3 separate regions of the Homo sapiens genome follow, and regions 2 and 3 are each linked to region 1. Evidence: fine-mapped expression QTL. A gene starts in region 1. Each other region holds a variant in brackets. All regions are shown on one strand. Distances are between the middles of the regions.

Region 1 (10,977 bases):
GTAATCCCAGCACTTTGGGAGGCCAAGGCAGGCAGATCACTTGAGGCCAGAGGTTCGAGATCAGCCTGGCCAACATGATGAAGAAACCCCGTCTCTACTAAAAATAGAAAAATTAGCCAGGTGTGGTGGAATGGACATGTAGTCCCAGCTACTCAAGAGGCTGAGGTGGGAGAATCGCTTGAGCCCAGAAGGTTGAGCCTGCAGTGAGCTATGACTGTGCCACTACACTCCAGCCTGGGCAACAGAGCGAGACCCTGTCTCAAAAAAAAAAATTAAATGACTCTATATGTCACTTGATGCTTTCCAATTAAGAAAAGAAAAGACTGTATGAGTTGCCTCCTCTGACCTCCTGGAATCATCACTCGCCCCTACTGTCCACTCCCAACCTCCACCCAACAGGTTGCTAAGCTCCCTGCCTTCTCTTCCCTCTGCCCCAGGGTTCCTCATCTGGCTTTTTTTAAAAAAACTGGCTGTTCTTACATCTCTCTCTCATCTTTCAGTTGCAGAGAGGCTTCCTCTGACCACCCTTTGCAAAGCTGCCATTCCTCCCACCCCCATTATTTTCGCTATTGCAGAGCTATAATTATTTCCTTCAAAGCACGATAAAGAATGCCTACTCAATGTCTCTTCCAGTAGAACATAAGCTCTTTGAGGGACCTTGTCTGTCTCAACTCCACTTCATCCCTAGTGTTTGGCACCGTGTTTGGTACAAAGTAGCCACTCTTTAAAGTTATTAAAATAACACATAAACCATGAAGGACACAGCTGTCCCAGAAGAGAGCAATTACTGAGTGTGGGGAGGAGTAGTCAGTCCTGGACTTTTCGGGGTATGGGCGAGATGCAGGAGGGCTCTCTTCTGTTACAGTCATAGGCTGGGTGATGACAAGCATGGGTCTAAGGGGAGGTGACACCCCCAGTAGCTGAAGACAGTTTTTACAAAATGCCCTGAGTCTCCTCTATATAAAGTCAGCTCAAAATCTTAGTCTTCCCTATCAAGTAACACAATACTTTTTTTTTCCTCTTTCCTCTACCTGTCTTGATACTGTAACTTTTCAAATCAACTTTGTTTTACAGATTTAATCTGGATAAATATACTACAACGAGGCAAAGCGGAAGGCACACTGTGTGATCCGCTAAGGATCTCAACCCCCTGAAGTCCCCCAGGAATTCCCTGCTAGGAAGCAGCTGGAACATGTACAACTCACCTGACTGGCCTTGTTTTAGCCAACAAGCTTTCTTAGAGACTAAGGCGATGAGCCATTGAATTTCATGACGTCAACAGGCTAAGTTGGAAGGTCCCTGCAACTTGAATCTCCCTCCAACAGGGATGTTCAGCCTCTGCTAGTATATCACCCTAAAACTATCTCACTGGAACATAAGTTTCATGAGACAGGGACTTTGTTTTATTCAATGCTGTATTTCTAAGGCCCTGGGACATAATAGGGGCTCGATAAATAACAGTTGAGTGTTGCTGAAATAATCTAAAACCTGCTTCAGGCCAAGCGTGGTGGCTCACGCCTGTAATCCCAGCACTTTGGGAGGCCGAGGTGGGCAGATCACCTGAGGTCAGAAGTTCGAGACCAGCCTAGCCAACATGGTGAAGCCCTATCTCTACTAAAAACACATAAATTAGCTAGGCATGGCAGCAGGTGCCTGCAATCCCAGCTACTCGGGAGGCTGAGGCAGGAGAATTGCTTGAACCCAGGAGGAGGAGGTTGCAGTGAGCTGAGATCGTGCCATTGTACTCCAGCCTGGGGTACAAGAGCGAGACTTCTTCATCTCAAAAAAAAAAAAAAAAAAAAAAGCTTCTAAAACCTGCTTCCAAGCTGCTTTTATTAGAACATTATAAACTCAATTCCACTTCCTTCCTTCCCCGTAACAGCTCTTCACATAATAATTCAGTTTTTAAACACTTAATATTTGCCAGGCACATACAAGAGCCATTTACATATTTATTTATTTATTTATTTATTTGAGATACAGTCTCATTCTGTCTCCAGGCTGGAGAGCAGTGGCGCGATCTTGGCTCACTGCAACCTTCACCTCCCAGGTTCAAGTGATTCTCCTGCCTCAGCCTCCCGAGTAGCTGGGACTACAGGTGCGCACCACCACACCTGGCTAATTTTTTGTATTTTAGTAGAGACAGGATTTCACCAGGTTGGCCAGGCTGGTCCCGAACTCCCGACCTCAAGTGATCCACCCACCTCAGCCTCCCAAAGTGCTAGGATTATAGGCATGAGCCACCACGCCTGGTGAGCCATTTACATATTAACCCATACTGTCCTCTCAACAATCTTATCAGGTAGGAACTATCATCATCCCCATTTTACTGTAAGAAATCTAAGGCCCCACTTGGGAGGCTGAGGCAGAAGAATCGCTTGAACCTGGGAGGCAGAGGTTGCAGTGAGCTGAGATTGAGCCACTGCACTCCAGTCTGGGTGACAGATGACAGAGCAAGACACCGTCTCAGGAAAAAAAAAAAGAAAGAAAAGAAAAGAAATCTGAGACCCAAAGAGATTAAGTAATCTTCCCGAGGTGACATGGGGAGTTACTCACTGAGGCAATATCTAAACCTGGCAGTGTGGCTCTAGAGCACAAGCTCCTAACCTCTGGGCCACTGTTGCCTCTTTACCACCGTTCGTTCGGTCCACAGTCTTCTCCTGGTTAAACATCCCGTTCCTCCTCTGTAAAGCTCTGCTCAGAGAGGGTCCCCCTAACCACACAAGTACTGTGCCACAGTGTCCTGAGGTATGGTGTACCTGCATCAACACCAACAGCGAATACTGACTAAACCCAGTGTTAAACTACAGGCCAGGGACTATTATTATCCCAACTCCGTAGGTGAAGAAACTAAGCCTCAGAAAGGTTACCCAAAAATCACAATTAGAAAGTGACAGAGCTTGGACTTGAACCCATATCTAGGCCTAATACTAATACTGGTTCCTATGCTTGGAACCCCATGGAGGGCCATCTCATTACACCAAATATTTCTTAAAAGCTTATTAATATCTACTATTGCGTTTAACTTTCCAAGTTGGAATTGCCATCTTCATTTTACACATGAGCAGGTGGTGCAGGTGAATGGCCAAGTAAAGATATTAACGTGGCTTTCTGAGAGGGACCCAGTGCCAGGAGTGTATTTTTCCCTCTATACAGTTATAACTCCTTCTCAACTCCCTAAGGTAAAAATACCACCACCGACTGATCACTTATTAGGAGCCAGAACACTGCCAGATGTGTTACTTACATTTTCTCTAATTTCCAAAACAACCCCAAGGGAATGTTGTCCGTTTTACAGACGAAAGAGCTGAGGTTTAGAGAAAGTAAATAACTATGTCATTAAGTCTAGAAAGTGGCAGAACTATTGGGACACCCTAGCTTCAGCTTTTATTTTTTCTGCTCCATACAGCTACGTCTCCCACACTTTTTCTGCGCTGAGAATGGGAGAGGGGAAAACATCAGGATCGAACAGGATCAAAGTGCAATTCCAAGGGAATCACAGCTTGGCTCCAATCAACGCAAGTCCCGCTCGGTAGGCTGGGATAGTTCCCCAAGCATCTCTAAAAGCAACAACAGTTGGAAATGGAGACGAAGGAAATGGAAGCGTGTTCTTGATTTTCACTAATGAAGAGTTGGAGAGGTCTGAAGTTCAATTAGAGGGAGAAAGGGGCCAGGGTCATCGGAAAGGGCCCTGGGCGGGGAATCAGGGCACCTAGGATGGCGTCCCAGGTCTCCATGACCCAGACAAGTCACTCCACCTCTCCGGACCTCAGTTTTCCCATCCCCTTCAAAGGATTTGAGGGGAAAAGGGAGGGTCCAGGACTCCAACGCCCTCCCGACTCTGGCCTGAGAGCTGTCCGGCCTCGCCTCTAAGAGAGCAGTCACCACGGGCCAAGCCCCCAACCCTGACAGTCAGAGTGCCTGCAGGGCCGCCGCCTCGGCGGCTCGGGGCACTTACAGCCCGGAGGGACGCCAAGCCCACCAGTCGCCGCGGAAGCGCCTTCCTCATTGCTGCCATCTTGGCCCAGAATCCCCCGCGGCAGTCCAGCTGGGCCCCGCGTGACCGATGGCTCGTCTGGTGGGCGCGGCCCCGCCCCCGCCCCTCCGCCGTGACTTCCGAAGCTGGCTCCACCCCCAGCCTCTCTCCGTTTTGATTCCGAGCGCCTCTTCCATGCCAGGCCAAGTGAGACGCTAGGAATATAAAGATGAACAGAATCAGCCTGGACACCATGTAATCCTAGCACTTTGGGAGACCGAGGCGGGTAGATCACCTGAGGTCAGGAATTCGAGACCAGCCTGGCTAACATGGCGAAACCCCCGTCTCTCCAAAAAATCCAAAAAAAAAAAAAAAAAAAAAAAAAAAAAAAAAAAGCCGGGCGTGGTGGTGGGCGCCTGTAATCCCAGCTACTTGGGAAGCTGAGGCAGGAGAATTGTTTGAACCCGGGAGGCGAGGTTGCAGCGAGCGGAGATCGTGCCACTGCACTCCAGCCTGGGCGACACAGTGAGAGCCTGTCCAAAACAAAAAACCCAAAACCAAACAAACAAAAACATGAAAAGAAATTAACCAAATTCTGTGGCTTCTTGTGTTTAGAGTGTGGGAGGTGTGAGGAGACACATATTAATAGTTACACAAACAGTTGTGTCATTTCTAACTTGCACTATAAGAAGCAACGATTTGCTACTCACTGTTCCGAGTTCTTAGCACGGATTAACTCACGCATCACGATCTTCAGGATTCAAACACAGGCAGGCAGCTCCAGAGAGGGGGCATCCTTAGATTTCATACCTTAAAAAAATGATTAAGATTTATCTAGGTGTACTTTCTGAAGGGCTGAAAAAAAAAAAAATCTATCCAGGTGAAGAGGATACAAGAAAAACTTTCCAGACGGTGTAGCATTCGCAATGGCCCTGAGGCAAAGAAAATGCTGAGAACACTGTTTTTCTCTCTTTTGTTTTGTTGGTTTGTTTTGTTTGTTTGAGATGGAGTCTCACTCTGTCACCCAGGTTGGAGTGCAGTGGCGCGATTTCGGCTCACTGCAACCTCCGCCTCCCGAGTTCAAGAGAGTCTCGTGCCTCAGTCTCCCGAGTAGCTGGGATTACAGGTGTGCACCACCACGCCTGGCTAATTTTAGTGTTTTTAGTAGAAACGAGGTTTCACCGTGTTGGCCAGGCTGGTCTCAAATTCCTGACCTCAGGTGATCCGCCCGCCTTGGCCTCCCAAAATGCTGGGATTACAGGCGAGAGCCACCGCCCCCGGCCAGAGCACTGTTTTCAAACTGTATGTTGTACCCCACTAATTGGTCACAGTATCAATTTAGTGGGTACAAACTTTATTTAAAACAAAGAACTAGAATTTTATCTATCTATCATCTATCTATCTATCTATCTATCTATCTATCTATCTATCCATCTATATTTATTTATTAAGACGAAGTCTCACTGTGTTGCCCAGGCTGGAGTGCGGTGGCGTGATCTCGGCTCACTGCAACCTCTGACCCCGGGGTTCAAGCGATTCTCCTGCCTCAGCCTCCGGAGTAGCTGGGATTACAAGTGCCCATCACCGTGCCCAGATAATGTTTGTATTTTTAGTAGAGATGGAGGATTTCACCATGTTGGCCTGGGCTGAAGCAATCCACCCTCCTCGGCCTCCCAAAGTGCTGGGATTACAGGCGTGAGCCACTGTGCCAGGCCCCAAATATAAAATATTGCTCTATAAAATAATAAAAGAGTGATCTAAAAAAATAAAAATAATAATAAAAGAGAAAAGGCTGGGTGCAGTGGCTTACACCAGTAATTCCAGCACTTTGGGAGGTCGAGGTGGGAGGATCACTTGAGGTCAGAACTTGAAGACCACTCTGGCCAATAAAGTGAGACCCCAAGTCTATTCAATAAATAAGAAAAATAGCCAGGTGTGGTGGCTCATGCCTGTAATCCCAACACTTTGGGAGGCCGAGGTGGGCGGATCACTTGAGGTCAGGAGTTCGAGACCAGCCTGACCAACATGGTGAAACCCCGTCTCTACTAAAAATACAAAAATTAGCTGGGCATGGTGGTGCGTGCCTGTAATCCCAGCTACTCAGGAGGCTGAGACAGGAGAATCACTTGAACCTGGGAGGCGGAGGTTGCAGTGAGCCGAGATCACGCCACTGCACTTCAGCCTGAGTGACAGAACGAGTCTCTGTCTAAAAACTAAATAAATAATAATAATAAATAAGAAAAATATTAGAATACAATGTATAAAAGTAGTAAAGCCAAGTACTGCTTTGCAAAACTTTTGTTCATTATATATATCAACAAGGTTGCAATGTAAAATAAATTTCTTACTGTGGGCTGCACTTGGAATTGTTTGAAAACACCTTTTTAGCAAGATGAAAAGAAGGCTGGAATGATTGGAGAGCGGGGAGGGAGTAGGAAGGGGACTTCCTACTAAGATTGGAGAGTTTGGCAGGAACTGTCACAGGGCTTTGGTGAACACACTAATACCAGCTGTCCTAATAGCAGTGATTTTGAATGATTTAGAGTAGGGAAATCTGATTGAATTTGCATTTTTAAATAGTCACAGGGGCTACTGGTTGGATGTTAATTGTGTGTCTGGTATTCTCAGGGAAGGCAGTGAAGGCACTTTCCTTGACTTTAAGGAGCTCAGATTTTATCTAGGGAAAAAACAAGACATGATAATTATTCTGTTAGGCTTCAGCAGCACTGGAAATTTTCTCTATCATGACACTGGGAGCATTACTCACAGAATTCTCAAACCTGTGTTAGAGGGCTGCACTCGGCCCAAACATACTGGCATGGTATTATTTAAAATATGTCTTTCAAGACTTGTACACTGAAAATTATAAACCATTGGTGAAAAAAATTAAAGAAGACATAGTGGTAGGACATCCCATGTTCATGAATTGGAAGACTTAATACTGTTTTTTAGTTTGTTTGCTTTTGCTTTGAATTTTTTAATTTTTAATTTATTTTTATTGTTATTTATTTTATTGTTTGTTTACTTATTTATTTATTTTTGAGACAGAGTCTCACTCTGTCACCCAGGCTGGAGTGCAGAGGCGCAATCTCGACTCACTGCAACCTCCGCCTCCCGGGTTCAAGCGATTCTCCTGCCTCAGGTTCCCGAGTAGCTGGGATTACAGGCACCTGCCACTACGCCCAGCTAATTTTTGTATTTTTAGTACAGACGGGGTTTCACCATGTTGGCCAGGCTGGTCTCAAACTCCTGACCTCAAGTCATCCGCTCTCCTCGGCCTCCCAAAGTGCTGGAATTACAGGCGTGAGCCACCACACCCAGCCTTTTTTTTTTTTTTTTAGATGGGGTCTCACTCATTCTCTTGCCCAGGCTGGAGTGTAATAGTGCAATCATAGCTCACTGTAGCCTCAGCCTCCTGCACTCAAGCCATCCTCCCACCTCAGCCTCCTGAGTAGCCGGGACCACTGGTGCATGCACCATCACAACCAGCTAAGTTTTAAATTTTTTGGCCGACAATGGTCTTGCCATGTTGCCCAGGCTGGTCTTGAACTCCTGGGCTCAAGTGATCTTTCTTGTTTTGGTGCCCCAAAGTGTTGAGATTAAAGATGTGAGTCCCAGCACCCAGCCAAGAAGACTTAATATTGTTAAAATGTCAGGGAGGTGGAAGCTGCAGTGAGCTGTGATTGCACCACTGCACTCCAACCTAGGTGACAGTGAGACCCTGTCTGAAAAAATATAAAAAATAAAAATAAAAATTACCATATGATCCAGGAATTTCACTTCTAGGAATATACCCAAAATAATTGAAAACATGGACTTAAACATATGTACATATACCAATAGTGTTGCTATGTTCCTCATAAATACATATTCTTGTATATACAGAATATAAATATATTTATTTATATATTTATATATAGAATGTATAGAATATAAATTTATTTATAAATATACATATATATTTATATTCTGTATATACAAGAATATATATTTATGAGCAACATAGCAACATTATTGGTATGTGAATATCTGTTTAATTCCTTGTTTGCAATTATTTTCAGTATATTTCTAGAAGTGAAATTCCTGGATCATATGGTAATGTTTGTTTTTATTTTTGTTTTATTTATTTATTTTTTTGAGACTGAGTCTCACTCTATCACCCTGGCTGCAGTGCAGTGGTGCAATCTCAGCTCGCTGCAACCTCCGCCTCCTGGGTTCAAGCAATTTTCATGCTTCAGCCTCCCGAGAAGCTGGGATTACAGGCATACACCACCACACCTGGCCAATTTTTGTATTTTTAGTAGAGATGGGGTTTCACCATGTTGGTCAGGGTGGTCTCGAACTGCTGACCTCAAGTGATCCATCCACCTTGGCCTCCCAAAGTGCTGGGATTACAGGTGTGAGCCACCGCGCCCAGCCTAATTTTTTTTTTTTTTTTGAGACAGGGTCTTACTGTGTCACCTAGGCTGGAGTGCAGTGGTGCAATCACAGCTCACTGCAGCCTCCACCTCCCTGGGCTCAGGTGACCCTCCCACCTCAGCCTCCTGAGTAGCTTTTATGTATATATAAATTTACATATATAATTTTAAATATATTAATATATAATATATACTTATAAATTATTATATAACAAATTATATAATAAATATATTATATTTTATTTTATTTATAATTATATATTTTTATATAGTATATTTATATATAATATACTTATTATATATGCATATGTGTGTGTGTGTGTATATATATATATATATATATATATATATATATATATATATAAAAACTCTCCTATTGGTTCTGTTTCTCTGGAGAACCCTGTCTAACACAATGAGCAATAATGTTGCTCATAGTAACATTATCTGTGATGGCCAAAAGGCGTACAGAACGCACATGTGCATTAACAGATAAATGGATGAACAAAATGTGCTATATTGTATACCTACAATAGTTACTCATTCTTGAAAAGATATACAATTCTGACACATGTTGCAACATGGATAAACCTTAAAAATATTCTGCTAAGCCAGACACAAAAGGGCAAATTTCATGATTCCACTTATGTGGGTGTGATGGTTAATTTTATGTGTCAACTTGACTAGGCCACAGGGTATCCAAATATTTGACTACACATTATTTCCGGGTGTGTCTGTGAGGGCATTTCTGAATGAGGTTAGCATTTGAATCAGTAAAGGGAGTAAAGCAGATTACTCCCTCAATGTGGGGGGCATCATCCAATTCTTCGAAGGCCTGAATAGAACAAAAAGGTGGGGAAGGAAGAATTCTCTCTTCTACATTCAGACTGGGACTTACACTACACCATTGGTTCCTCTCATTCTCAGGCCCCTGGGCTTCAACTGGAGCTACACCTCACTGGCTTTTTTTGGTCTCCAGCTTGCTGACAGCAGATCATATTTCATACATATACATATCTTTTTTTTTTTTTTTTTTAAGATAGAGTTTTGCTCTTGTTGCCCAGGCTGGAGTGCAGTGGCGCGATCTTGGCTCACTGCAACCTCCACGGGTCAAGCGATTCTCCCGCCTCAGCCTACCGAGTAGCTGGGACTACAGGCACCCAACAACACGCCTGGCTAATTTTTGCATTTTTTTTTAATAGAGACGGGGTTTCACCATGTTGGCCAGGCTGGTCTTGAACTCCTAACCTCAGGTGCTCCAGCAGCCTCCAAAAGTGTTGGGATTACAGGCGTGAGCCACTGGGTCCGGCCTATATATCATCTTTTATTGGTTTTGTTTCTCTGGAGAATCCTAACTATTACAATGAGGACTTTATTATAGTCAAATTCATAGAGAAAGAAAGTTGAATAGTAGTTATTGGGGGCTGGGAGTGGAAAGAAATTGGGAGTTATTGTTTAATGGGTACAGAATTTCAGTTTGGGATATGAAGGAGTTCTGGATAGTGGAGATGGTTGTATAACAATGTGAATGTACTTAATGGCACTGAATTAAAATGGTAAACTTTATGCTATATATATTTTAAACAATAAAAAAAAATAAGTAACTGCACAAGAAAAAAAGACTTAGGCAAGGCATACCCTTGCCAGCTCCCCAGTCCCTACTACTCCTAATTGTCACAGACACGAGGCTTCTCTCCTTCCTCTGTTTGCCCCCCTAAAAGCCCTTGTTGGCAAATTCTCAAAAGTAAATAACTTACAAGCACAGCTCTGAGGCAAATGTCTAAACTAAAGGGCAGAGACTTTAACTGGTTGTTGAATGTGGTGTCTCCAATACCAGGCACATTTGGTGGCATGAAGTAAATACTGAAAGAGTAACACTAGCAACTGTTACAGACTTTGCTCAGGGTCACCCTTAGTTGGAATCTTATTTTAACCAAGATGTTTCCTTTTTTGCATTGTAACCCACCCTCAATTACAAAGCTTACAATAATTATTAACAATAGCCCCTACCATTTATTAAGTATATTTTCTGTATTGGTTGTGATATATAGTAACTTTTCATGAGTAATCAGACTCTGCAACATAAATGTTACTCTTTCCATCTGAGAAATGAGGAAACGGAGGCTTAAGAGACATTAAATAACTTTTCTAAGATCATGTATGGTAGGTAAGTTCAGACCCAAATCTGACTCTAGAGAATGCTTTCTTTGCTACATGATAACACTATTCCCTCTTTCCTCTTCCTTTCTCTCCAAATTACTAAAAGAGATGGCTGCTGTGATTAAGGCACAAGTTGGTGCTAGGTGCTAAGACCGCAGTAGTAAATAAGATTCACCACAATTCTGTGCACCTTTCTCAGACCTTCAGATTTTATGGTAATAGTTTTTTTTCCCAGGACTTTTTTTTTTCTTTTTAATTTTTTTTTTTTTAATGAGACGGAGTCTTGCTCTGTCGCCAGGCAGGAATGCAGTGGCGTGATCTTGGCTCACTGCAACCACCACCTCCTGGGTTCAAGAAATTCTCCTGTCTCAGCCTCCCCAATAGCTGGGACTACAGGTGCCCACCACCACACCTGGCTAATTTTTG
Region 2 (10,977 bases), 53 kb after region 1:
GATGCAGGCATGAAGCCTGACCTGACTTGTACTGACCCTGTCCCAGGCCTTTTGTGTCTCGCCTACCTGGCTACTCCTCGTGGCCCTACCTATCCAACAGACTGTGTGCAGGTGGGCAAGGCCAGGCTGTCTTCCAGGAGTCAGTCCCAACACTCATCAGCAAAAAGGGGTCCGTGTCTAGGTGTCTGGGACTGGTTTAAGTAAGAAGAGAGTGCCAAGACCCCTCTCTCTCTTCCAGGGAGTGAACTGATTTCTGACTTGAGTTGTTTAAATTGGGAAGAGGCCTCATCAGCAATCAGAGAGGTCTAGATCTCTGGAATCTGGCCACGGAGTGATTTTCCCATCAGCCTCTGTCTCGGTGACTGAGGATCTCGGGGCTTCTTCTTTTGCCTCTGACCCAAGGCCCCTCACACACTTCTTCCAGTGAGCCAGGCAGTGATGGGCAGAGGAGCGGATCTCTCCACTCCGTAGAGCATAGATGACAGGGTTGACCATGGAGTTGATGAGGCACAGCATGGAGCAGAAAGCAAAGGCCTTCTTGACCTGGTCACTGAGCGTAGTGGCCAGGCTGTGGGCCATGAGGGCCAGCACTGGGAACCAACAGATGAGGAGCACAGCCAACACTAGCCCTAGGGTCTTGGCCAACCTCACATCCAGCCTCATTCGGGCCATTCCTGGCACCTGCCTGTCCTGGTGGCCAGACAAGCTGGCCACATGCTGATGGGCCTTCCAGAGAACATGCCCATAGGTGTAGATGATTCCGGAAAAGAGGAAGGCGATGAACAGGAGCCAGCTCAGCAGGTAGTCATTGGGGATCAGTGGGAAAAGCTCAGAGCAGGGCCTGGGACAGCAAGTCCATCCCATGAGGGGCAGGTAGGAGACTAGTGCTGAGAGGACCCACATGATGCCCAGGGTCACCAGTGCCCTTCCACGGGTGAGCAGAGCTTTGTAGGAAGGTGGATAGCGCAGGCAGAGGTATCGGTCAATGGCGGTCAGCAGGAGGCTACCCACAGAGGCTGTGAAGGTCATAGTCACGCTGCCAATCTTCAGCAGGAAGACAGCCTTGGAATCCACACCATGGAAAACATGGAAATTCACAAAGCTGCATGCAAAGACCACACTGGCCAGGAAGTCAGCCCCAGCCAAGCTGCCAATGAACAGGTATGAGGGCTTCCGGCGGAGTTGGTGGGAGGACAGGATCAGATAGAGCACAGCCACGTTCTCCAGGGCACTTAGCAGGCCCAGAAGAGTGCACAACACAGCAACAGCTGTCTTCTGGGGACCACTCAGGATCATGTAATCCTTCATAGGGTTGGAATCCAAGCCATCCTTGGAGCCATTGGCTATCTCTGTCACCCAGCATTCCTCCATGGGGTGGGCCCTTCAGATTCCACTGAGCTTGTCTAGAAGGCTTTGCTGCAGTACAATGAGAAGAAGAAAATAATCTTTTTCAGTAAGCACAAGAATGACCTCACCTGATAACTGACTGTAGCCAAAACTGCTACCTGTATGGATGGATTCTATGTGGGAAAATCAGTTTCTGTTTTGTTTGCCTGTATTTTGCCCTTTCTCCATCCAAGCAGGAAGCCAGATCTGTCCTGGCTGCCTCAGGGGAGGTACGTGGGAATGCAACAAGCAGAAGTGACTTGTGAGATTTTTGGCCTTCCATTTTCCAAAAGACTAATCCTAAGACTTCCTTTTGAAGCAAGGGAAATCCCAAAAGGTCAAAACCAAGAGGAAATCAAAACCAAGAAGAAATGGAATCTAGAGTGATAAGGTTGAGGGTTTTTTTGTTTGTTTTACATTTTGTTTTGTTAATTTGCCAATTTCGGCAAGTAAAGTACTGAAGTTTTAACAACTATTTGGGGATGGGATTTATGAATTTGGCTTAACATCAAGTGATGGGAAGAGAAAGTACAGAAGATTAAACAATTTATTTTATTTTAATTTTTATTTATTTATTTATTTATTTATTTTTGAGACAAAGTCTTGCTCTGTTGCCCAGGCTGGAGTGCAGTGGTGTGATCTCGGCTCACTGTAACCTCTGCCTCCCAGGCACAAGAGATTCTCCTGCCTCAGCCTCCCAAGTAGCTGGGACTACAGGCACCCACCACACCTGGCTAATTTTTGTACTTTTAGTAGAGACCGGGTTTCACCATGTTGGCCAGCTGGTCTCGAACTCCTGATCTGAGGTGATCCACCCACCTCAGCCTCCTAAAGTGCTGGAATTACAGGCATGAGCCACTGCGCCTGGCCAAAACATTTTATACTAGATAAAATATAGGAGTCCAGTTAAATTTGAATGTTGGCTGGGCACGGTGGTTCACGCCTGTAATCCCAACACTTGGGGAGGCTAAGGAAGGCGGATCATGAGGTCAGGAGATCGAGAACATCCTGGTTAACATGGTGAAACCCCGTCTCTACTAAAAATACAAAAAATTAGCTGGGCGTGATGGCACGTGCCTGTAGTCCCAGCTACTTGGGATGCTGAGGCAGGAGAATTGCTTGAACCCAGGAGGCAGAGGTTGCAGTGAGCCGAGACTGTGCCATTGCACTCCAGCCTGGGCGACAGAGCAAGACTCTGTCTCAAAAAAAAAAAAAAAAAAAAGATGAATGTCAATAAGAAGTAACTTTTTAGTATATGTCACAAATATTGAAGAAAAAACCCTCAGGAACCTAGATATTGTACGGTTTATTATTAGACATTATTAGAAAGCAAACTAAACATTTATTTGGAGCGATTCACTTTCTAAACAGGTTGTATAGGAATACCACATATAAAGGCCCGTGAAATTTGAGTTCACAATGCAAAATGCATAAGGAAACATGAGCAAGAGTCAGCAGAAACGTCAGACAGTAGAATTCCACTTTCAATAACTTCATATAATTCTTGGGTATACCTTAAAAAAAAAGTCTGATATAAAAACAATAAAGAATTAAAAACATGAGTACAGAATGAGAGATTGTTTCTGGGTAGATCTGAAAAAGATTCAAGTAGAATTTCTGGAAGTCAAAAATAAAATCATTGAAAAAAGAGATCCTTAAGGGATGAGTTAAAGAGCAAAACAGAACAACTGAAAAGCATTGATCTAGAACGTAGATCTGGTGGCCGGGCACGGTGGCTCACGCCTGTAATCCCAGCACTTTGGGAGGTCAAGGTGGGTGGATCATGAGGTCAGGAGATTGAGACCATCCTGGCTAACACGGTGAAACCTCGTCTCTACTAAAAATACAAAAAATTAGCTGGGCATGGTGGCAGGTGCCTGTAGTCTCAGCTACTCAGGAGGCTGAGGCAGGAGAATGGCGTGAACCCGGGAGGCGGAGCTTGCAGTGAGCCGAGAGCCGAGATGGCGCCACTGCACTCCAGCCTGGGCAACAGAGCAAGACTCCATCTCAAAAAAAATAAAAAGAAAAAAAAAGAAAGTAGATCTGGGGCTGGGCACAGTGGCTCACGCCTGTAATCCCAACATTTTGGGAGGCTGAAGTGATGGATCACCTGAGGTCAGGAGTTCAAGACTAGCCTGGCTAACATGATGAAACCCTGTCTCTACTAAAAATACAAAAATTAGCCGGGCACGATGGTGGACACCTGTAATGCCAGCTACTCAGGAGGCTGAGGCAGGAGAATCGCTTGAACCCCGGATGCAAAGATTGCAGTGAGCTGAGATCGCACCACTGCACAGCAGCCTGGGCGATAAGAGTGAAACTCCATCTCAAAAAAAAAAAAAAGAATGTAGCTCTGAAGAAATTTCTCACAATGCAGAACAAAGAGATAAAGTGATGGAAAACAAGAAAGAGAAGTTAAGAGTTATGAAGGATTGAGTAAAAATGTTTATATCTCAGAGGAGTGTTAGAGAGGATAAACAGAGAAAACTGGTGGTGGGCAATAGTCAAAGAGGTAGTAGTAAAGAATTATCCATCCAGCCTGGGCAACATGGGAAAACCCCATCTCTACAAAAAAATACAAAAATTAGCTGGATGGTGGTGCATGCCTATTGTCTCAGCTACTTGGGAGGCTGAGGTGGGAGGATCACTTGAGCCCAGGGAGGCCAAGGCTTCAGTGAGCCATGATCATGCCATTGCACTGCAGCCTGGGCAACAGAATGAGACCCTGCCTCAACAACAAAAAAGAATTATTCAGGATCCATGAAAAATAAGACTATTCAGATTTGGAAATCACAGGGAACCCAAAGCAGAATTTTTTTTTTTTTGAGACAGAGTTCCCAGGTTCAAGTGATTCTCCAGCTTCAGCCTCCTGACATAGCTGAGACTACAGGTGTGCACCACCATGCCCAGCTAATTTTTGTATTTTTAGTAGAAAAGGGGTTTTCCATGTTGGCCAGGCTGGGCTTGAACTCCTGGCCTCAGGTGATATGCCCACCTCGGCCTCCCAAAGTGCTGGGATTATAGGCGTGAGCCACCACACCCAGCCCCAAGTAGAATTTTTAAAAACACATTCCATGTTCATGTATATCATATAGCATACATATCAGAATACCAAAGACAAAGAAAAATATAAGGCAGTAAGAATGAAAAGCCAAATTACCTGTAAGAGAACCATAATTAATTTTAAGAGCAGATTTCTGATCAGCAACAATAGAAGCCAAAAAATAAAGAAAAAACTGTCAGTCTAGAATTTTATACCCAGCTAAACTATCATTCAAGAATGAGGTCTAAAAAATTCAAAGAAAATTGTTCACTAACAGACTTTCACTGAAGGAACATCTAAAGAATGTGCATTTTAGAAGGAAATTCAACCCAAAGGGAAGAAAAGAACGGCAAGAAAGAATAGTGAGCAAGTAAGTTGACAAATATGAGTAAAGAAAAGCAAATGGCTTTATAAAACAACAATGATAATAGTGAGTAATTTATGCCCATCTTTACTAAAAACACAAAAATTAGCCAGGCGTGGTGGTGTGCACCTGTAGTCCCAGCTACTCAGGAGACTGAGGCAGGAGAATTGCTTGAACCTGGGAGGCAGAGGTTGCAGTGAGCCGAGATCATGCCACTGCACTCCAGCCTGGGTGACAGAGTGAGACTCTGTTTCAAAAAACAAAACAAAACAAACAAACAAAACCAAAGTGGAGACTGGGCACAGTGGCTCATGCCTGAAATCCTGGCACTTTGGGAGTCCAAGGCAGGAGGATTGCTTGAGCCCAGGAGTTCAAGACCAGCCTAAGCAACATGGTGAAACCCATCTCTACAAGACATAAAAATTTAGCCAGGCGTGGTGACATATGCCTGTATTCCCATTTACCTGGGAGGCTGAGGTCAAAGGATTACTTCAGCCCAGGTGGTCCAGTGTGCAGTGATCTATGATTGTGCCACCACACTCCAGTGTGGGTGACAGAATGAGACCTTGTTTCAAACAAAAACAAAAACAAAGTAGAAATAAAATTGTGAATGACAAAAATGCAAGACAAGAAAGAGATGAATAGAGTTAAAGCTTTATCTAGGAAGTGGGTAAAGACATTGATTAATTTTAGGCTTAAAAAAAAAACCAGGCATCATCTCTTATCTGGTTTATTGCAATAGCTTCCTAACTGGGCCCCCTGCTTTTAATCAGGCCCATTTCTAATCTAGTTTCAACATAGCAGTCAGGGTGATCCTTTAAAAATATAGGATCTTGTCATTTCTCTGTCCCAAACCCTGCATAGCTCCCTAGTCCACTATGTAAAAGCCAAAGTCCTTAGTGTTATGGTCCCTTCTACCATGATTCCCTTGGTGACCCAGCTTTAGCCACATTGGCTTCTTAATCAGTCTTCTCTTCAGCCACAGGTCCTTTGCACTGGCTGTTCCCTTTTCCTGGATCACCTTTCCCTCAACATTTACTTGGCTTGCTCTCACCTTGTTTAAGTCTTTGCCCAGATCTTACTTTTTCAATGACACCTACCCTGACTACCCCATGTAATACCCTAACTCATCCCAACTTCCAACTCTTTTTTTTTTGAGACGGAGTCTCACTCTGTCACCTAGGCTGGAGTGCAGTGGCACAATCTCGGCTCACTGCAACCTCCGCCTCCCAGGTTGAAGCCTTTCTCTTGCCTCAGCCTCCCGAGTAGCTGGGACTACAGGCGCATACTACCATGCCCGGCTAAGTTTTCATATTTTTAGTAGAGACGGGGTTTCACCGTGTTAGTCAGGCTGGTCTTGATCTGACCTCGTGATCTGCCCGCCTTAGCCTCCCAAAGTGCTGGGATTACAGGCATGAGCCACTGCACCTAGCCCAACCTCCAGCTCTTTTGCTTTTCTTTACACTGACCTCGTCTTTATTTTTTCCATACCACTATCACCTTCTAATATATAAAATGTATTATTTTTAGTTTTTATTTTTTTGAGATGGAGTTTCACTCTTGTCACCCAGGCTGGAGTGCAATGGCGCGATCTTGGCTCATTGCAACCTCCGCCTCCAGGGTTCAAGTGATT[C/T]TCCTGCTTCAGCTTCCTGAGTAGCTGGGATTACAGGTGCCTGCCACCAGGCATGGCTTTTTTTAATATATATATTTTTAGTAGAGATGGCGTTTCACCATGTTGGCCAGGCTGGTCTCAAACTCCTGACCTCACGTAAAGTGCTGGGATCACAGATGTGAGCCACCACACCCAGCCTATAGTTTATATATGTAATTTAAATATAAATTAACATATTACATATAATTTAAATATAATTATAAATATAAATTAATATAAAATGATCTGTTGTATAAAATTGTATTCTGACCACATAAAATTTATTTAGAAATTAATAATTAAGGCTGGGCGTGGTGGCTTACACCTGTAATCCCAGCACTTTGGGAGACCAAGGCGGGCAGATCACCTGAGGTCAAGAGTTAGAGACCAGCCTGGCCAACATGGTGAAACTCCATCTCTACTAAAAATACAAAAATCAGCTGGGCATGGTGGCAGGCACCTGTAATCCCAGCTACTCGGGAGGCTGAGGCAGGAGAATCGCTTGAACCCAGGAGGCGGAGTTTGCAGTGAGCCAAAATCACACCATTGCACTCCAGCCTGGGTGACAGAGTGAGACTCCGTCTCAAAAAATATATGTAATAATAATAATTTTAAAAAATTACTGGTTGGGCATGGTGGCTCATGCCTATAATCCCAACACTTTGAGAGGCCGAGGCGGGCAGATCACATGAGGCCAGGAGTTTGAGACCAGCCTGTCTCTAATAAACCCCATCTCTACTAAAAATACAAAAATTAACCAGGCCTGGTGGTGCACACCTGTAATCCCAGCTACTGAGGTGGTTGAGGCAGGAGAATCGTTTGAACCTAGGAGGCGGAGGCTGCAATGAGCATCACTACACTCCAGCCTGGGCAACAGAGTGAAACCCTGTCTCAAAAAAAGAAAAAAAAAATTGCTAGGCCGGGCATGGTGGCTCACACCTGTAATCCCAGCCCTTTGGAGGCCGAGGCGGGCGGATCACCTGAGGTAGGGAGTTCGAGATCAGCCTGACCAACGTGAAGAAACCTCGTCTCTACTAAAAATACAAAAAATTAGCTGGGCATGGTGGTGCCTGCCTGTGATTCCAGCTAGTCGGGAGGCTGAGGCAGGAGAATCGCTTGAACTTGGGAAGGCGGAGGTTTCGGTGAGCCAAGATCGTGCCATTGCACTCCAGCCTGGGCAACGAGAGCGAAACTTTGTCTTTAAAAAAAAAAATTACTAACAAAGTTCATAGGTATGGATCTTTTTCTTGAGATGGAGTCTCACTGTTGTGCCCAGGCTGGAGTGCAGTGGAGCAGTCTTGGCTCACTGCAACCTCCACCTCCCAGGTTCAAGCGATTCTCCTGCCTCAGCCTCCCAAGTAGCTGGGATTACAGGTGCCTGCCACCACGACCAGCTAATTTTTTGTATTTTTAGTAGAGATGGGGTTTCACCATACTGGCCAGGCTGGTCTCGAACTCTTGACCTCAGGTTATCTGCCCACCTTGGCCTTCCAAAGTGCTGGGATTATAGGCATGAGCTACCGTGCCTGGCCTCAGGTATGGATCTTTAAAAACACACTTCGGGATCCCTTCGTAGTTCATAAGCGTGATGACTGGTTTTCACGCTCACGTGTGAGATGTTCCTCAAACCTATGATGACATTGTCACGTTACCAGTCTGATGTGTGAAAAAAGAAAAAAAGACACACTTTTGAACAATTCCTGGGTCAAAAATTCATAAAGGCGATTAGAAGATACTTGGCATTGAATGACTACGAAATTGTGAGACATTAAAATGTGTGAGATTCATCTGAGTCGTATGCAAAGGGAAATTTACAGCTCTAAATGCTGATACTATCAGGTGCGGTGGCTTACACCTGTAATCCCAGCACTTTGGGAGGCCAAGGCGGGTGGATCACCTGAGGTCAGGAGTTTCAGACTAGCCTAGCCAACATGGTGAAACCCCGCCTCTACTAAAAATACAAAAAAAAAAAAAAAAAAAATTAGCCCGCATGATGGCTGGTGCCTATAATCCCAGCTACTTGGGAGGCAGAGGCAGGAGAATCGCTTGAACCTGGGAGGCGGAGGTTTCAGTGAACCAAGATTGTGCCACTGCACTCCAGCCTGGACAACAGAGCGAGACTCTGTTCTCAATAAATAAATTAATAATAAACGCTCATACTACAAGATAAAAAAGCCTCATGAGCTCATCATGCAACTCATGAAATTAGAAGAAGGGCCATGGCATACATTCAAAGAAAGCAGAAGACAGAAATAATAAGAGCAGAAATTAATGACATGGCAAAACTATAGGGAAGAGAAAGAACTGACAAAGTCAAAGCTGGCTGTTTGAAAAGATTATAAAATAGATGACCACAGGCAAGATTACTAAAGGAAAAAGGAGAGCAACCACAATGAAGAAAAATACAGGGCATGAGAGAGAAATGGTCAATAATCCTTTGAAAAGATGCGTAACCTCAATAGTAGACAGAGAAATGTGTTTCACTCCCATCAGATCGGTAAAAAAGTAAGGCTGACAATACTGAGTGCTGGAGAAGGCGTGGAGCCAAAAGAACTCTCATTGCGATGGGGGTGTAAGTTGACACAGACACTTTGAAGAGCAGCTTGGCAAAATCTGGTGAAGTTGACGATACATCAATTGCAGTCCCGGGAATACGTTCTGGAGGAACTCCTGCAGGTGCGTCCAGGGAGGCATGTACAAGAATGTTCTCTTTGGCATTTTTGAAATAGAAGAACAATTCTAAATGTCCATCAACTGGAAAATGGATAAATAAGTTGTAATACAGCCATACGAAGGAATACCACAAAGTGGTGAAAACGTGCCAACAATGATGAATCTTAAAAACAGTGTTAGGCCGGGCGTGGTAGCTCATGCTTGTAATCCTAGCACTTTGGGAGGCCGAAACAGGCGAATTGCCTGAGCTCAGGAGCTCAAGACCAGCCTTGGCAACACGGTGAAACCCTGTCTCTACTAAAATACAAAAAATTAGCCAGGCATGGTGGTGTGCGCCTGTAGTCCCACCTACTTGGGAGGCTGAGGCAGGAGAATCGCTTGAACCCGGGAGGCGGAGGTTGCAGTGAGCTGAGATTGCACCACTGCACTCCAGTCTGGGTGACAGAGCAAGACTCCATCTCCAAAAAACAAACAAACAACAAAAAAACAAAAACAAAAAAACCCCCCACAGTGTTGGGCCAATCCCTTGTAAAGCCTAATCCTTAAGGAGAGTTTAGAGGATTTATGAGTAGATAAAAGTGAAGAGAACTTGCAGGCAGGAATATAACATTTTAGAGAATCTGGAGGGATTTTCCCCAGACTGGAGTTGAAAACCGAGCCTTGCCTGAGGCAAAAGGAAAAATCTGTGCCTCTCTATAGACATCTTTATGTCTTTTTTTGTTTTTGTTTTTTTTGAGACAGAGTCTCACTCTGTCGCCCAGGCTGGAGTGCAGTGGCACAATCTCGGCTCACTGCAAACTCTGCCTCCCGAGTTAAAGCGATTCTTGTGCCTCAGCCTCCCGAGTAGCTGGGATTACAGGCACCTGCCACCATGCCTGGCTAATTTTTGTATTTTTAGTAGAGACGGGGTTGTTGGTCAGGCTGGTCTCGAACTCCTGGCTTCAAGTGATCTGCGCGCCTTGGCCTCCCAAAGTGCTGGGATTCCAGGCTGGAGTGTAGTGGCGCGATCTCGGCTCACTGCAGCCTCTGCCTCCTGGGTTCAACCGATTCTCATGCCTCAGCCTCCCAAGTAGCTGGGATTACAGGCACACACCACCACACCTAGCTAATTTTTGTATTTTTAGCAGAGACGGGGTTTCACCATGTTGGCCAGGCTGGTATCGAACTCCTGACCTCAAATGATCCACCCGATTCAGCCTCCCAAAGTGCTGGGATTACAAGTGTGAGCCACCATGCCCAGCTGACCATCTAGTTTAATCCCCGCAACTCTATGATATTAGAGTTATGCTTATTGCTATTTCACAGATAATAAAAGGTCGGCAATGTTAAAGCATTGGGCTGAGGCCACACGGCTGGTCGAGGTCAGAACTAAGGCTTTATTATTTCTGGACCTTTAGTGGCTCAGCACAATGCTTGCTGCATAGCAGGTGCTCAAAAACAATTTTTTTTTTTTTTGAGATAGAGTCTCACTCTGTCGCCCAGGCTGGAGTGCAGTGGCATGATCTCAACTCACTGCAACCTCCACCTTCCGAGTTCAAGCGGTTCTCCGGCCTCAGCCTCCCGAGTAGCTGGGATCACAGGCGTCTGCCACTGTGCCTGGCTAATTTTTTGTGTTTTTAGTAGAGGTGGGGTTTCACCATCTTGGCCATGCTGGTCTTGAACTCCTGACCTCGTGATCCACCCACCTCGGCCTCCCAAAATGCTGGGGTTACAGGCATGAGCCACCATGCCCGGCCTCAAAAACTATTAACTGAGGCTGGGTACAGTGGCTCACACCAGTAATCACGGAGTTCTGGGAGGTTGAAATGGGAGGATCCCTTGAGCCCGGGAGTTGGAGGCTGCAGTGAGCTATGGTCATGC
Region 3 (5,105 bases), 32 kb before region 1:
CGCCGAGGATGGGGAGGGGCCAGCCAGCCTGACATTCTTTTGTGTGTTTGGGAGTCCCAGAGCGTGGTCAAGCCAGGGCTCGTTTGCAGTCAGTGGCAGCAGCAGCAGGTAGCTCCGTTTAGGGGGGGCGTGGAGCACCAGTTTGGGGGTGGGTGGAGTTCTTACGCTTTCTGGGGACATGGGCAGCCCCCTGGGGGTCTGGGAATGGATGGGCCAGAAACTGCTGTGAAGGCTGGATGGGGGCTGGGTGGGGGGAGGTTGAGATGGGGGTTGGAGGCGGCACTGAGTAGGGGATGGAAGCTCCTTTCCCTGGCACTTTTCTCTCCATTTCCCATAGGGCCCGGAGTTGGGGAGGCAGGGACCCAGGGATGATTGGAGAGGAGGGGGAAGGCACTCACCCCTGAGGAGTTAGAGGGGGAATGAAGCAGGCGTGCCGCTGCCTCCCCTCTGCCCCCTGCCCTACAGTCCCTATGCCCTGCCTCTGCCTGTCTCCAGCAAGCTCAGGTCCTGTGGTTGGGCCAGAACCAGAGACACATGTTCTGGGCCACTAGGGAGGCTGTCTCTGCCTTTCAGCCCTGGAACTGAGGCAGACTTCTTCTCCTGTGCCCTGGGACTTCTTGCTTGACTATTCTTTGTGCCCAGGACAGAACCTGGGTGCTGTGTGGGGCTGATGGCCTGGTGGCCTCTTGGGCCAGGAGTGTGTCCTGTGCCTGGTTTTGCTCTTGACCGCCGCCCCGATGTATGCAGGCCCCCGCCGTGGAGCCGTGTGGTGTATGTGTGGTAACACCATGTCTGTGCCCCTGCTCACCGATGCTGCCACCGTGTCTGGAGCTGAGCGGGAAACGGCCGCGGTAAGGGTCCCCTTTCACCCACGGCCAGACACTGTGGGAGCAGCTGGAGGACCGGCTGGAGGGGGTGTGGGAAAATGGAGGTGGCAGTGATGAGCAGGGAGTATCCTGAGGCCAGCAGGCTCGGGGTAGTAACCTGTTTGGCTGCTACCTGGGTTCCCCCAGGTCCTTGGGGGTGGGGGAGGGGTGGGCAGAAGTTGGAGGACCTAGGGGAAGCCTTCCTGTCTCCCCATTTCCCATCCTTTTCCAGGTTATTTTTTTACATGGACTTGGAGACACAGGGTAAGTGACTGAGGAGGGGTGCTCCTTAAGGAGGGGTCCTGGCCCAGCAGCGGACTGGAGAGGCCTTCTCTTCCTACCACATCGGAGCCTTTTCTCCCGTCCCTCCTACAGGCACAGCTGGGCTGACGCCCTCTCCACCATCCGGCTCCCTCACGTCAAGTACATCTGTCCCCATGCGTGAGTGTCACCCCAGCAAGGGAGGGGCTGAGGCTGGGGATCATCTGGGGGTGGTCCTGTCATCCCAGGCCTGTTCTCTCCTGTCAGTTGCATCCTGGGGCTTGGGCTCAGGGCAGTCAGAAGTGGCATTTTCAGCCTGAGCTCCTGTGGAGCCCCCAGGAGTGGGGTCCAGCACCAGCCCCCAGCCCTAGGGCCTCCTAGACCTGAGCTCTCCTAGAACCCACACCTCCCTTTGCCCCTTCCCCAAGTACTCACCGACTACCTGGGACCCCGTCACACCAAGCGCTGGGCTCTGCTTCTCCATTACTGGCGCTTTGCCCCAACCACAGCCTCCAGCCCCACGTGGCAGGTTGCCTGGCAACACCTTAAACACAGGCCCTGCCTGCTGGGAGGGGCCACCAGGGGCGGCGCGGCCCCACTCCGGGCTCTGAGCTCTGGCCTCCTCATTCCTCCTGAGCATGATGGGCCCTCTGGCTCTCTTTCCCCAGGCCTAGGATCCCTGTGACCCTCAACATGAAGATGGTGATGCCCTCCTGGTGAGTTTGGGAGTGGGGGTGGGCAGGGGGACGAGGACACTTGGGCTGAGGGAGCCACAGGGGGCTGGCTGGGGTTTTCTATAGCTGCCAGTGCCTCTACTCCCAAGGTTTGACCTGATGGGGCTGAGTCCAGATGCCCCAGAGGACGAGGCTGGCATCAAGAAGGCAGCAGAGAACAGTAAGACCCCAGCCCCTCCTCCACATCCTCCTTCCCCTGCCCCCCAGGAAAGCGCTGGGCGGTTCCTCAGCCTAGCTCCCTTATTGGGCCCCTTGGCAGCTTCCCTCTACCCACTCATGCCCCCTCCCCCAGTCAAGGCCTTGATTGAGCATGAAATGAAGAACGGGATCCCTGCCAATCGAATCGTCCTGGGAGGCTTTTCACAGGTGAGGGGAGAGGGGTGGGGGGGTAGGGGGTAGGGGTGGCCGGTGAGTGAGCTGTGCCCTCATGACCCCTCTCTCTCCTCCCTCCAGGGCGGGGCCCTGTCCCTCTACACGGCCCTCACCTGCCCCCACCCTCTGGCTGGCATCGTGGCGTTGAGCTGCTGGCTGCCTCTGCACCGGGCCTTCCCCCAGGTGAATGTCCCCACTGACCCCCCCGCCCTTTGTGTCTGCATCCTCGTGGCTTGGGGACTGCTGCAGCACTAGCTTTGCCCTGAGTCCTGTCCGGCCTCCAGGCAGCTAATGGCAGTGCCAAGGACCTGGCCATACTCCAGTGCCATGGGGAGCTGGACCCCATGGTGCCCGTACGGTTTGGGGCCCTGACGGCTGAGAAGCTCCGGTCTGTTGTCACACCTGCCAGGGTCCAGTTCAAGACATACCCGGGTGTCATGCACAGCTCCTGTCCTCAGGTCAGTGGGGGGACCATTTCCCACTCCCACTTCTCTGCCTCCAGCCAGGTGCCTCTCGTGATCCCCTCTTAATCCCCTCAGGAGATGGCAGCTGTGAAGGAATTTCTTGAGAAGCTGCTGCCTCCTGTCTAACTAGTCGCTGGCCCCAGTGCAGTACCCCAGCTCATGGGGGACTCAGCAAGCAAGCGTGGCACCATCTTGGATCTGAGCCGGTCGAGCCCCTGTCCCCACCCTTCCTGACCTGTCCTTTTCCCACAGGCCTCTGGGGGCAGGTGGCAAGGCCTGGCCGGGCCTTCCTTCCTGGCCTTAGCCACCTGGCTCTGTCTGCAGCAGGGGCAGGCTGCTTTCTTATCCATTTCCCTGGAGGCGGGCCCCCCTGGCAGCAGTATTGGAGGGGCTACAGGCAGCTGGAGAAAGGGGCCCAGCCGCTGACCCACTCACTCAGGACCTCACTCACTAGCCCCGCTTTGGGCCCCCTCCTGTGACCTCAGGGTTTGGCCCATGGGGCCC[C/T]CCCAGGCCCCTGCCCCAACTGATTCTGCCCAGATAATCGTGTCTCCTGCCTCCACTCAGCTGCTTCTCAGTCATGAATGTGGCCATGGCCCCGGGGTCCCCTTGCTGCTGTGGGCTCCCTGTCCCTGGGCAGGAGTGCTGGTGAGGAGGTGGAGCCTTTTGAGGGGGGCCTTCCCTCAGCTGTTTCCCCACACTGGGGGGCTGGGCCCTGCCTCCCCGTTACCCTCCTTCCCTGCAGGCCTGGAGCCTGTAGGGCTGGACTGAGGTTCAGGTCTCCCCCCAGCTGTCTCACCCCCACTTTGTCCCCACTCTAGAGCAGGGAGGCAGTGGGGGAGGAGTTGTGTCTCGTCTTCTGTCTCCATGTGGTTTTTGGGTGTTTTTCTTGTTGTGTCCTGGATTCCGATAAAATTAAAGAAATTGCTTCCTCAACGCTCAGGCCTGGCTGATTCTATTCCAGGGGTGGATAGTGACCATCTGTGAGAACCTGCCCCAGTGTAAGAAAACTTGTTTTTATTTTTAAATACTTTGGAAAGCTCTTTCAGAGCAATATAAATGAGTGCCTGGGAGGAGGAGGTTTTGTGCCAGAGCCTTGCCCCCTCACTCACTCTTGGGGGTCCTGATGAACTCTTGGACCCTGTGGAAGATAAGAGTTAGAGACCTCGGCCTCCTGGTCAGTGGAGCCCTTGGCCTCATGCCTGGTGGGCTAAGCGGGCCCAGCTGGGGTTTGAGGTAGGGGAGGCCTTGGCTTGGCCCCAGCAGCTCCAGGGCCCTGAGTTCCTGCCAGAGGCTGGAGAGCAGGCAGCTGCTGCTTTTCCTGGTCCTTGGTAGGGGAGGGTCCTCAGGCTTGCGTGCCAAAGCCTGAAGGATTCTGCTTCTGCCAGCGCCAGAGATCCTCACCTGCAACACGGCGAGGTGTGTGCTCAGGGCCCACGGTGGAATGCAGAGCCTCCCCCACCCCACAGCCCGCCCTGGGTGGGCATGCCCAGATCTGATTTAGCCCCTCCCTGGCCCCTAACTGCAGGGGTCAGGCCAGCACTCACACATCCTGTCCAGCCCTAAGGCTGCTGTCCACCCCAGCTCCTCTTGGGCCAGGCTGGGGTTGGCGTAACAGGCTGCCACATCACCTTCCCGCCGTGCCACCACCTTGTACGGGATCTGCAAGACAGGAGGTAGTTGGAGCTTAGCTGAGCCGGCCCTGGCCCAGCTGCTGGCCAGGTCTTTAAGAAGCAGAAGTGCAGAGCAGCGGCTGGCCCGCAGGCACCGGGTGCTAGGCAGGCTGAGGAGACTGGGCAGTGCCAGGTACCCTCCAGAGAGGTGAGTGGGAAGGGCCAAAGCTGCTCTGTTGCTGAGAGCTGGGTGGGGTGAGGTGGGTGAGGTGGGTGGGGCGGGGGGGCCTACCTTCTTCCCAGAGGCCTTCTCCATAGCCTGGACCATCTGCAGCACTGAATAGCCTGTGCCCGTGCCCAGGTTGTAGATCTGGCCCACGGAGAACAGGGTTTATGGAGCGGGCTGGACTGACCACGCCTCTGGGCCGCTCTGCCTGGATCTGGTCCCTCCCCTCCCTCACTTCTCCCTTCTCTTCCTACCCGGCAGCCACACTGTTCTTTCAGCTTCCTTAAGGCTGCAATGTGGCCCTTGGCCAGATCCACGACATGGATGTAATCCCGGACACCTGCAGAGAAGGGAGTGTGTTGGATGGGGAGTCTGTTCCCCCTGACTCTCCTTCCTGGCTCCCACTCCTAGGTCCCCCTGGTCCTAGGCTCACCTGTGCCATCCTCTGTGTCATAGTCATTGCCAAAGACATTCAGGGCCTCCCGTCGCCCGATCGCCACCTGGAGGTGGAGATCAGGTCAGTTCGTCCCAGATCCCAGGCACCAGCTTTAACCCCAGGGCCACTCCTCTGT

The links. PIP is the estimated chance that this variant, and not a neighbour inherited with it, causes the effect. A credible set is the group of variants that fine-mapping cannot tell apart.
Region 2: its variant is the best candidate, but not a certain one, in a credible set for the expression of HMGCL in whole blood (TOPMed, PIP 0.87).
Region 3: its variant is the best candidate, but not a certain one, in a credible set for the expression of HMGCL in whole blood (TOPMed, PIP 0.62).

What each region holds. Positions count from the first base shown.
Region 1 is chr1:23,821,398-23,832,374 of GRCh38, forward strand. HMGCL (3-hydroxy-3-methylglutaryl-CoA lyase) reads right to left here and starts at 4,032. Exons shown (of 9, transcript NM_000191.3): 1 at 3,959-4,032. The coding sequence starts at 4,018. It overlaps LOC105376861 (a long non-coding RNA gene), which reads right to left. Exons shown (of 3, transcript XR_947068.2): 2 at 4,687-4,786; 3 at 4,143-4,191. RefSeq lists an enhancer at 4,033-4,901.
Region 2 is chr1:23,874,247-23,885,223 of GRCh38, forward strand. It overlaps CNR2 (cannabinoid receptor 2), which reads right to left. Exons shown (of 2, transcript NM_001841.3): 2 at 1-1,416. The coding sequence starts at 1,371. The coding sequence ends at 289. It also overlaps the pseudogene LOC124904841. Among named protein-coding and RNA genes, the nearest start is that of FUCA1, 11 kb to the left of the region's middle. The variant C/T (reference allele first, on the strand shown) is at 6,427.
Region 3 is chr1:23,791,910-23,797,014 of GRCh38, forward strand. LYPLA2 (lysophospholipase 2) reads left to right here. Exons shown (of 10, transcript NM_007260.3): 2 at 748-851; 3 at 1,099-1,130; 4 at 1,242-1,307; 5 at 1,796-1,843; 6 at 1,951-2,021; 7 at 2,154-2,227; 8 at 2,315-2,416; 9 at 2,518-2,691; 10 at 2,773-3,630. The coding sequence starts at 774. The coding sequence ends at 2,823. It overlaps GALE (UDP-galactose-4-epimerase), which reads right to left. Exons shown (of 12, transcript NM_001008216.2): 8 at 4,967-5,033; 9 at 4,788-4,873; 10 at 4,600-4,677; 11 at 4,242-4,356; 12 at 3,690-4,098. The coding sequence ends at 4,040. LOC105376860 (a long non-coding RNA gene) reads right to left here and starts at 1,623. Exons shown (of 2, transcript XR_947067.3): 1 at 1,563-1,623. The variant C/T (reference allele first, on the strand shown) is at 3,202.